Linked DNA regions of Homo sapiens: region 1 is linked to region 2. Evidence: fine-mapped expression QTL. A gene starts in region 2. The other region holds a variant in brackets. All regions are shown on one strand. Distances are between the middles of the regions.

Evidence for each region.
Region 1: its variant is fine-mapped to the expression of DCAF11 in whole blood (TOPMed, PIP above 0.99).

Annotation. Positions count from the first base shown.
Region 1 is chr14:24,056,036-24,061,035 of GRCh38, forward strand. CARMIL3 (capping protein regulator and myosin 1 linker 3) reads left to right here. Exons shown (of 40, transcript NM_138360.4): 11 at 264-358; 12 at 587-673; 13 at 880-989; 14 at 1,132-1,209; 15 at 1,768-1,844; 16 at 1,925-2,029; 17 at 2,120-2,189; 18 at 2,645-2,726; 19 at 2,855-2,951; 20 at 3,100-3,154; 21 at 3,235-3,407; 22 at 3,629-3,697; 23 at 3,935-4,028; 24 at 4,122-4,220; 2 more. Among named protein-coding and RNA genes, the nearest start is that of CARMIL3, 6.5 kb to the left of the region's middle. The variant G/A (reference allele first, on the strand shown) is at 2,428.
Region 2 is chr14:24,111,522-24,117,033 of GRCh38, forward strand. DCAF11 (DDB1 and CUL4 associated factor 11) reads left to right here and starts at 3,256. Exons shown (of 15, transcript NM_025230.5): 1 at 3,256-3,772; 2 at 3,861-4,228; 3 at 5,396-5,512. The coding sequence starts at 4,074. It overlaps NRL (neural retina leucine zipper), which reads right to left and starts at 3,428. Exons shown (of 3, transcript NM_001354768.3): 1 at 3,201-3,428. RefSeq lists enhancers at 2,509-3,224, 2,806-2,945, 3,186-3,335.

The DNA.
Region 1 (5,000 bases), 56 kb before region 2:
TTAACTACCAAGCAGGGTGGGCTGCTCCAGTCTTGAGGACCCAAAGCTGACCTTTGTCTCAGCACAACTTCCTAAGGTGTGGAATGCCCCCAGGTACTCCGGAGTGGTGACAAGCTCCCTGGCAGGCCCTGAGCTGTTCCCCTGTTGTGGGGGCCTCTGACCATGCAGCCCCAGCCAGGCAGTCAGGTAGAGGAGGAGGGGAAGCCCAGAGGCTGGGACCTGGGGCTCAGCTCAGGACAAATCCTTCCTCCCCTTCCCTGAAGGGACTTTGTCCAGAAGCTGGCCGGGGTGTTTGGGGAGAACGGGAGCTGTGTGCTGCATGCCCTCACTCTGTCCCACAACCCCATCGAGGACAAGGGTGAGCCCCAGCCCTGAATCCTGTCCCCATCCCAATGCAGACCCCTGTCCTAGCCCAGAGCCCAACCAGGTCTGAACAGCAGCTCTCCAGCCTGATTCCAGCCCCTGCCCTGACACCTCCATCCTTGACCCAAGGCCTGTACCCTACTCGAGCCCCCAACCTGACTCTGTGCCACCTGCACCCACTGCCCTGCCCCTCACTGGGCCCGTTTCTCTCTCCACTCCCCAGGTTTTCTCAGTCTGAGCCAGCAGCTCCTCTGCTTCCCCTCTGGCCTCACCAAACTGTGCCTGGCCAAGACTGCCATTTCCCCTCGAGGTACTCGCACCAAGGACCCCTGACCTCTGACCCTACCCTGGTGCTGCCTGGGGTGTTGAGCTCCAGAGGTACACCCACACATTCACACACCACCTCAGGGATGGAAGAGTGAAAAGGAGCCACGTTTGGGGAGAGGGGAAGAGTTATGTGCTGAGGGGAAGAGGTGGGGCTAGGGGCCAACCCAGCCCAGTGCCCGCTGTGCTCAGGGCTCCAGGCACTCGGCCAGACCTTCGGGGCAAACCCAGCATTTGCCAGCTCCCTTCGATACCTGGACCTGAGCAAGAATCCTGGGCTCCTCGCCACGGATGAGGCCAATGTGAGTCCTCAGAACAGCCTCAGCCCCCTGCAGAAAGCATGCTTAAGCTTCAGGAGCTGGGAGGCCTTCTGCCCCATGGCCTCTGGGGGTGGCGAGACTCCATCATCCCTTCCCCTGCAACCCCTCTTCCTTCCTACTCCAGGCCCTCTACAGTTTCCTGGCCCAACCCAACGCCCTGGTGCACCTGGACCTGTCAGGAACTGACTGCGTCATCGACTTGGTGAGGAGTTGGTGATGGGAAGCCAGTCTGAGGTGATTTGGGGAAGACCACAGTGGGCCTCGGTCTCACCCCCTATCCCTGAGTACACAGGCGGGCAGAGCTGTCTAGATGACTTCAGGTTCAGCTGAAGTATAAAGCAATGTCCATAGTTCATACCTGTGTGGCACTTTATCCAGGTCACAAGCTTGTGCTTGCTGTGCTTAAAAGCCAGCCCTTGCTCCCTTCCCCAGCTGTGCACCCTGGCTCCACCAGGGGAATGGATGCTTTTCCTAACTTGAACAAGGCACCTTAGGAGTCAGTGGTGGCCCTGGCTTTACACATCCACTGCCTGTGAGCAGCTTCATGCCCCTGGAAGCCAGGCAGGGAGTAGACCCATGTTCCACAGGGGAGAAAACAGAGACTTCAAGAATCTGAGTGGGCATCTCCAGTGGAGCTCACACAGGCTGACCACAGAGAATGAAGAGCCAGGAACCTCGATGGGGAGGGAGGGGGAGTCCTTTCCTGCCACCCCCTACCCCCTTCCAGCTCCCCTGAGACCCACCATATCTCCCCCCACAGCTTCTCGGTGCCCTGCTCCACGGCTGCTGCTCCCACCTCACCTACCTCAACCTGGCTCGCAACAGCTGCTCCCACAGGTGGGAGAGGAGGGGGAAGGGAGGACAGGGCAAGACATGGCCAACCCCCTCCCTCGCTGACCCCAGGGGTCTCTCCACAGGAAGGGTCGAGAGGCCCCGCCGGCCTTCAAGCAGTTCTTCAGCAGCGCCTACACACTGAGCCACGTCAATCTGTCGGCCACAAAGCTGCCCCTGGAGGCCCTCAGGTCGGGTGGGTGCAGGGTTGGGGGCGCATCCAAGGGAACCACGGGGAGCGGGAAGAGGTAAAGGAGGGCCTGCTGACCTCCCTCCCACAGGGCGCTGCTTCAGGGCCTCTCCCTCAACAGTCACCTCAGTGACCTGCACCTGGATCTCAGCAGCTGCGAGGTGAGCCCTCAGTCCCCAACCCCTCTGCCCGCCTCCGATCCATGTGCATTTCTCAGACCTAAGTCAAACCCTGGCTCCATCTAGCCTCTGTGCTGACCCTCTGCGACCCCCTGACCTGGCCACACCACCACTTTCCCCTCTCAGTCTGGCCTCTTTTCCAGAGGCCATTCATTCTCAGTCTCTAGTATCTCTGCCCTTAAAGCTTTGGGGTGGGAGATACCAGACTTTTCCACCAGAG[G/A]GCAGGAGCAAGCTGTCTTAGGAATAGCAGCCTTCCTGGCCGAAGGGAGGGAAGCCAGCTCTAGGGAAGGATCTGGTGTGGGGAAAGAGTCTCCCTGATTTTACACCCAGATCCTGGCATGACTTTGAGTTCTGGTGTGACTACTATATCCTAAGCATTAAAGGTGCCCTACCCCCACCCCAACCCCTGCCTTCCCTACCTCACCTTGTCCCTGCAGCTCCGTTCAGCGGGAGCCCAAGCCTTGCAGGAGCAGCTGGGAGCTGTCACCTGTGTAGGCAGCCTGGATCTGTCAGACAATGGTGAGTAGTGGTTCCTCCCTTCCCTGGGGCCAGGGGAGAACAGGGGCCTGGAGCATGCAGAAGCAGCCCTGATGGGACACCAGTCAGCCTCAGGCCTCCAGGCCAGGCCTCTCCCATCTGCTCACCAGGGTTCGACTCGGACCTCCTGACACTGGTGCCTGCACTTGGCAAGAACAAGTCCCTCAAGCACCTGTTTTTGGGCAAGAACTTCAATGTCAAGGCCAAGTGAGGCCCCCTTTCCATGCCCACAGACCCTCATCCCATCATTCACCCATCCTCTTGGCTCACCGTATTACCTCTGGCCACCTCTCTCCTCCTCCAATAGCATGACCCCAGCCCTTCCCCTCCTACTCTGAGCCCCGCCTCCCTGCAGGACCCTGGAGGAGATCCTCCACAAGCTGGTGCAGCTGATCCAGGAAGAGGACTGTGTGAGTGCCTGGGCCTGGGAGGGGACCTGCAGTCGGAGGAGGCTGTGGGGACTGGGTCCAACCGCCCCTTGCCCACACAGTCCCTGCAGTCACTGTCGGTGGCAGACTCCCGGCTGAAGCTTCGCACCAGCATCCTCATCAATGCCCTGGGCAGCAACACCTGCCTGGCCAAGGTGGATCTGAGCGGCAATGGCATGGAGGACATCGGGGCCAAGATGCTGTCTAAGGCCCTGCAGATAAACTCCTCCCTCAGGTGGGGCCCACACCGGGACCCCCTGACCTGGAGCCCCAGCCCCTCCCCATATGTACATAATCTCCCTGCTTTCCTTGATGCTCTGGACCCCAGCTTCCAGAAGACCCCCAGCCCCAGAACCATCTCTGAGTCAGCCTTATTGCCCCAAGAGGTTTGTGTCCCTGGCCCCTAGTAGGGACCCAGGAGGAGAGGTGCCAAACTGGTGCTTACCCTCCCCCCAGAACTATCCTATGGGATCGGAACAATACATCTGCCCTGGGCTTCCTGGACATCGCAAGGGCCCTGGAGAGGTGAGTAGACCATGGTCCTGCCCTGATCCAAGTCCCCAGCCTCCCTGTGCCTGGATCAGGCCTGAACTACTCTTGCCCCACCCTAGCCCCTTTGACCTATTTGCACAGAAATTTTAGGAAGGGCCATGGAAGACAGAAATGATGAGCAAGGGGGCTGGAGGGCTGCTCACCAACAGAGGAGGCAGGGGCCTCCCATCCTCACCTGTTCCCACCCAGCTGTGCCCCTGTGTCCCACAGCAACCACACGCTGCGCTTCATGTCCTTCCCCGTGAGCGACATCTCCCAAGCCTATCGCAGCGCGCCTGAGCGCACCGAGGACGTCTGGCAGAAGGTGCAGGGTGCTGTCCTAAGCAGGGTGGCACAGCAAGGGGCAGGGGGCAGCCCCCATCCCCAGGCCCTGACCCACCAACCCCATCATCTCCAGATCCAATGGTGCTTAGTGAGGAACAACCACTCCCAGACGTGCCCCCAGGAGCAGGCCTTCAGGTTGCAGCAGGGCCTGGTGACCAGCAGCGCCGAGCAAGTAAACGTTTCCCTCTGGGACACGGGGCATACCCGGGGCATGCAGGGCACAGTGTGATGTGATGGAAAATTGAGTGGGGGAGCATGAAGAGGCACTGCATGGTGCCTATCACTGGACTGAGCATGTGGGGAAGCAAAAAGAGAGGACATGCAGGATATGGGCTTCAAACATATGTGGGCGAACAGCAGGAGTGCACAGGACTCTGGGAGCTCAGCTGGGCATTCAAGAAGGCTGTAGCAATGGGGACCAGGCCAGCCAGAGACATCACCTCCACCACTGTCGGTGCCAGCACCAGTAGCACTGTCTAAGGGGTCCTACCTGCGAAGATGTGGAAGCAGGGGTCCCCTTGACACCCCTGCCACTGTGCTCCAGATGCTGCAGCGGCTGTGTGGACGAGTGCAGGAGGAGGTGCGGGCCCTGAGACTATGCCCCCTGGAGCCTGTGCAGGATGAGCTACTCTACGCTCGGGACCTCATCAAAGATGCCAAGAACTCCCGGGCGGTGAGCCCTCCACAGGCTACCCTTCCCCTGAAGTCTGGAGAACCCAAGAAGGCCGACCATGCTAAGCCATGACAGCCCTGCCCTGTGCATCTGCCTTCCTAGCCCAGGGACCCCAGAGACCTAGCAAGTCCTGGTTCTGGCCTGCTAATCATAACCCCTTCCTTCTCCAGCTGTTTCCCAGCCTCTATGAGCTGGGCCACGTGCTGGCCAATGATGGGCCTGTGCGGCAGAGGCTGGAATCAGTAGCAAGTGAGGTGTCCAAAGCTGTGGACAAGGAGC
Region 2 (5,512 bases):
TGCCACCACACTCGGCTTTTTTTTTTTTAGTGACGGGGTTTCACCATGTTGGCCAGGCTGGTCTCGAACTCCTGACCTCAGGTGATCCACCCGCCTTGGCCTCCCAAAGTGCTGGGATTACAGGCGTGAGCCACCGCGCCCGGCCAATTTTTTTAAAAAATGATTCCGTCCTGAGACTTTGCTGAAGTTGCTTATCAGCTTAAGGAGATTTTGGGCTGAGACGATGGGGTTTTCTAGATAAACAATCATGTCGTCTGCAAACAGGGACAATTTGACTTCCTCTTTTCCTAATTGAATACCCTTTATTTCCTTCTCCTGCCTGATTGCCCTGGCCAGAACTTCCAACACTATGTTGAATAGGAGCGGTGAGAGAGGGCATCCCTGTCTTGTGCCAGTTTTCAAAGGGAATGCTTCCAGTTTTTGCCCATTCAGTATGATATTGGCTGTGGGTTTGTCATAGATAGCTCTTATTATTTTGAAATACGTCCCATCAATACCTAATTTATTGAGAGTTTTTAGCATGAAGGGTTGTTGAATTTTGTCAAAGGCTTTTTCTGCATCTATTGAGATAATCATGTGGTTTTTGTCTTTGGCTCTGTTTATATGCTGGATTACATTTATTGATTTGCGTATATTGAACCAGCCTTGCATCCCAGGGATGAAGCCCACTTGATCATGGTCGATAAGCTTTTTGATGTGCTGCTGGATTCGGTTTGCCAGTATTTTATTGAGGATTTTTGCATCAATGTTCATCAAGGATATTGGTCTAAAATTCTCTTTTTTGGTTGTGTCTCTGCCCGGCTTTGGTATCAGAATGATGCTGGCCTCATAAAATGAGTTAGGGAGGATGACAAATGGGATCTAATTAAACTAAAGAGCTTCTGCACAGCAAAAGAAACTACCATCAGAGTGAACAGGCAACCTACAACATGGGAGAAAATTTTCGCAACCTACTCATCTGACAAAGGGCTAATATCCAGAATCTACAATGAACTCAAACAAATTTACAAGAAAAAAACAAACAACCCCATCAAAAAGTGGGCGAAGGACATGAACAGACACTTCTCAAAAGCAGACATTTATGCAGCCAAAAAACACATGAAGAAATGCTCATCATCACTGGCCATCAGAGAAATGCAAATCAAAACCACTATGAGATATCATCTCACACCAGTTAGAATGGCAATCATTAAAAAGTCAGGAAACAACAGGTGCTGGAGAGGATGTGGAGAAATAGGAACACTTTTACACTGTTGGTGGGACTGTAAACTAGTTCAACCATTGTGGAAGTCAGTGTGGCGATTCCTCAGGGATCTAGAACTAGAAATACCATTTGACCCAGCCATCCCATTACTGGGTATATACCCAAAGGACTATAAATCATGCTGCTATAAAGACACATGCACACGTATGTTTATTGCGGCACTATTCACAATAGCAAAGACTTGGAACCAACCCAAATGTCCAACAATGATAGACTGGATTAAGAAAATGTGGCACATATACACCATGGAATACTATGCAGCCATAAAAAATGATGAGTTCATGTCCTTTGTAGGGACATGGATGAAATTGGAAACCATCATTCTCAGTAAACTATCGCAAGAACAAAAAACCAAACACCGCATATTCTCACTCATAGGTGGGAATTGAACAATGAGATCACATGGACACAGGAAGGGGAATATCACACTCTGGGGACTGTGGTGGGGTCGGGGGAGGGGGGAGGGATAGCATTGGGAGATATACCTAATGCTAGATGACACGTTAGTGGTGCAGCGCACCAGCATGGCACATGTATACATATGTAACTAACCTGCACAATGTGCACATGTACCCTAAAACTTAGAGTATAATAAAAAAAAAAAATGATTCCGTCACATTCTGGGAGAACGCAGGTAAAATCAATCAATAAATAAAGATCCCGATTTTCCAGGCTGGATAACCCAGAAACCACGGAATCCTAAAGTCTCAATAAACGTTAAAGCACAGATAGTAAGTAATCTGGCAATAGAGGATGGGCGCCCAGCAGACCGCCTACATAATCAGTGGAGCCGAGTGCAAGATGAAAATACCAGGCACTTGCTTTAAAATTACTAATAATTTCAAGACCGTTAACACTAGAACATTAAACCAAACATTCAGGACCCTTCTAAGCGCAGAGGCCATCAAAGCTAGCCCTGGTGACAAGCTCAGGTCTCCGGATCTAGAGACTAGGAGACGTCGCCCGAAAGCTGGCCAAACCCTCGCCCTCACTGGGAGAGGCCCCAGGAGGGCCCAAGAAGGCCACGAGCCCTCGCTCCCATCCCTGCCCTCAGGAGCGGGCGGAGGGAAGCTCGCAGCTTTCCCAAGGAAGTGCAGGCTGCAGGGAATGAAGTTCAGCTCGGACCCTGAGCCTCTGAGCCCGAGACAGCAAGGTCATTCAACCCACACGTCCCCACCCAGCCAGGGCGAGGATCAGAGATGTGGCAACTCCCGGCCTTGGACTCAGGCTTGTTACTCATAAACCCGCAGGAGGGGGCAGGAGGGGGCAGGAGGCGGCGAGCGCGCACCCTGGACCCGCGGCCGGGGGCGGAGAGGCACCGCGAGGACAGAGGGACTAGCGAAGGTCTGCAAATCCCGGAGGGCCAAGGGAGCGTCAAAGGGGACAGCGGAACCGGAAAAGCTTTGACAGAAAGACGCGTGTATTAGGGAACGTCTGCAAAGACCGCGGCGGAAAGCCAGGGATTGTCTTAAAAAATTGTCAGACCGGATAAAGGGAGGTCTAAAAGGGGACCGTCCCAAGAGCAAGGCTTCCAAAAGCTAAGCCCGGAAGGACGGTATGGAGGTCTACTGGGACGCTGGGCACCCCTTAGGGCAGAACCGACTGGAGCTGCGGCCAGCGACAGAAGAACGGCTCCAGCTGGACAGGGGAAGCAGTGGGGAGAAAGGAGGCCCTTGGGCACTGTCTGAAAAGTGCGATGCCAAATGATCTTTAGGGACAGACAGTAAATTATATCCCTTGCTAAAATACCTCTCGGTAGCGAACCACCAAACGTTTCTTTTTTAAGCCCCGCCTCTCAGCCGTTACGCCTAGTTCGGCTGTCTCTGATTCAGGAAGCTGGCAGTTCCCACTTACTCCTCCCCAGCAAGAGCTAACAGCCCTCCTTGGGTGTGCACTTTCTCCTCCCCTCAGGCACCTCGCGCATTCTCCCGCCTACCTATCAATCATCGTGCTCCGCTGTCCAGTTGGCTGGCCAAGGGGGCGGGGCCGTCGTGTGACGTTTGCAGCCCGCCGGCCAGGAAGCCGCGAGATGCGTGACGAGCGAAGCGCGTGACGGAGGAGCGGTTGGCCAACGCAGTGGCGGCAGTCGGTGTAAACAAGGCCTCGCGCCGCTGCGGGTCCTGCGACCGCTCCTGGCTGGTGGGTGGTCTCGCGTGGGGCGGTTACCGCCGGCTTCAGTGGGAGGTGCTTCTCGGCTTCCTCCCCCTCATGGCGTACACACCCCCGGCGCACCACGTGGGCGTGAGGCGAGGAAGGAGGGGTGTTAGGCCAAATTCTATTTTCATTGGCTGTCACTGCTGCCGGCCTTTGTAAGGGGGCGCTCTGATTGGTCGATAAGGTGGGGGCGTCGAGGGTCTTTGAGTCCTAAGGCTTCTAATTGGTTAGATGAGATAAGCTAGTGAAGCGCTTTCTTCCGAGAGGGATTTCGATTGGTCGGTCAGAGAGGTTACCTGGAAATCCAACACCGCCCAACACCCCTCCCGCTCCCCAGTCCGGGGACTTCGATAGGTGAGTTTGGTGTAGAAAACAAATCTTTCTTCAGTTGGTGAGCTAGGGTAGCGCACTACGGTTCACTCTTGCTTTCTTTGCTTCACAGGATTGGAGAAGGTTTGTGTTCCCGACGCCTTGGTAGTTGGCATAGGCTAAAGAAAAGGGATCTCAGCCCCGAGGAAGGGTCACCCTCCTAGAGATAGCTACTACCCCGTCTCAGGAGACCCTGGTATTTCTAGAGCACGCTTTGCTTTCACCAAACCCAAGGAGGTGACAGGAGGAGCCCCCGCACAGGACCTAAGAATGCTGTGACCAGAAGATGGGATCGCGGAACAGCAGCAGTGCAGGATCCGGGTCCGGAGACCCCTCCGAGGGCTTGCCCCGAAGAGGGGCTGGCCTGCGTCGGAGTGAGGAAGAGGAAGAAGAGGATGAAGATGTGGATCTGGCCCAGGTACTGGCCTATCTCCTCCGCAGGTAACTTACCCTCTGGTGTGACCCCCAGCAGGTGCTACCACAGTGCCTTGATCCCAACTCCAGGCAGGAAAATTACAGAGGTTAGGAAATGGGATTCGCTCAGGACAGCTGTTCTGTTTGAGCTGAACAGCCTTTCCCTGCTGGGCACCCATGGCACTCAGCTCCATACCCAGTAAGAGTGGTTCTTACCTAGGGAGGGTCACCAAGAGGACCTGCTCATGTGTTTGAGGGGCTATTCAAGGGAGCCTGTCTCTGTGACTACACAAATATAGTCTATTTTCCAAGTAAGCTTGAAAAAAAAAAGGGGGGGGTCCTAGTGGGAAAGGAGTGATGTAAGGGGTGAAGAGATGGGAAGGGAGTGTTGAACTTTTTAGTAAGGCAGTTGACACATGATATGAGGCCACTTCGATTTACTTGAAAAACAAGTTTAATTTGCCCTGACTCTAACCTGTTCTTGAGGAAAGAATGCCTTGAAGGGAGAGACCACCTGGAATTGACTGGAAAAGGGTGCAGCTGGCTTTCTTTCTTTGCTTATGGCTCTTTGAGGAGAAGATGGGTTTGGGGGTCCCTTCAGAATATTGTATTCTTTTTTGTTTGTGTTTTGTGTTGTTTTTAGTAGACATAGACAGGGCTCACTGTGTTCCCCAGTCTGGAGAACGGGCTATTCACAGGTGTGATCAAGTGCACACCACAGCCTGCAACTCCTGGGCTCAAGCAATCCTTGCCTCCCAGGTAGCTAAGACTACAGTTGCACACACCACCGCACCCAGCTTAGAATATTGTCTTCTGTGGTGGACTTCTCAGGCAGAGGCTCAGAAGGAAATGCTGTGAGGATGTTTAGCTTGTTGGGAGGTCAACTTAGTAGGTCATGTCCACAGCGTATTGGTCTTGCTCTTGTTCTAAGGAAATGATGTTAGAATGTTTAGCTCGCTGGGAGGTCAACTTAGTAGGTCACGTCCACAGCATGTTGGTCTTGCTCTTGCTGTAAGAGTAAAACTCTCTTTCCTACTGTGTTTTATAGGAGACCAAAAATAACAGCCAAGGTCTAGTCAGCCTCAAACCTCAAAATGAGTACCAAGTGGTCTAAGAGCTAGATAGCCATTGACTCTGAATTTGGTTGGTTTGGGGGAAGAAGTCCCCTCCTTTATAATGGGGGTCTCTCCACAGAGGCCAAGTGAGGTTGGTGCAGGGAGGAGGTGCAGCAAATTTACAATTCATTCAGGCCCTCTTGGACTCAGAGGAAGAGAATGACAGAGCTTGGGATGGTCGTCTTGGGGATCGATA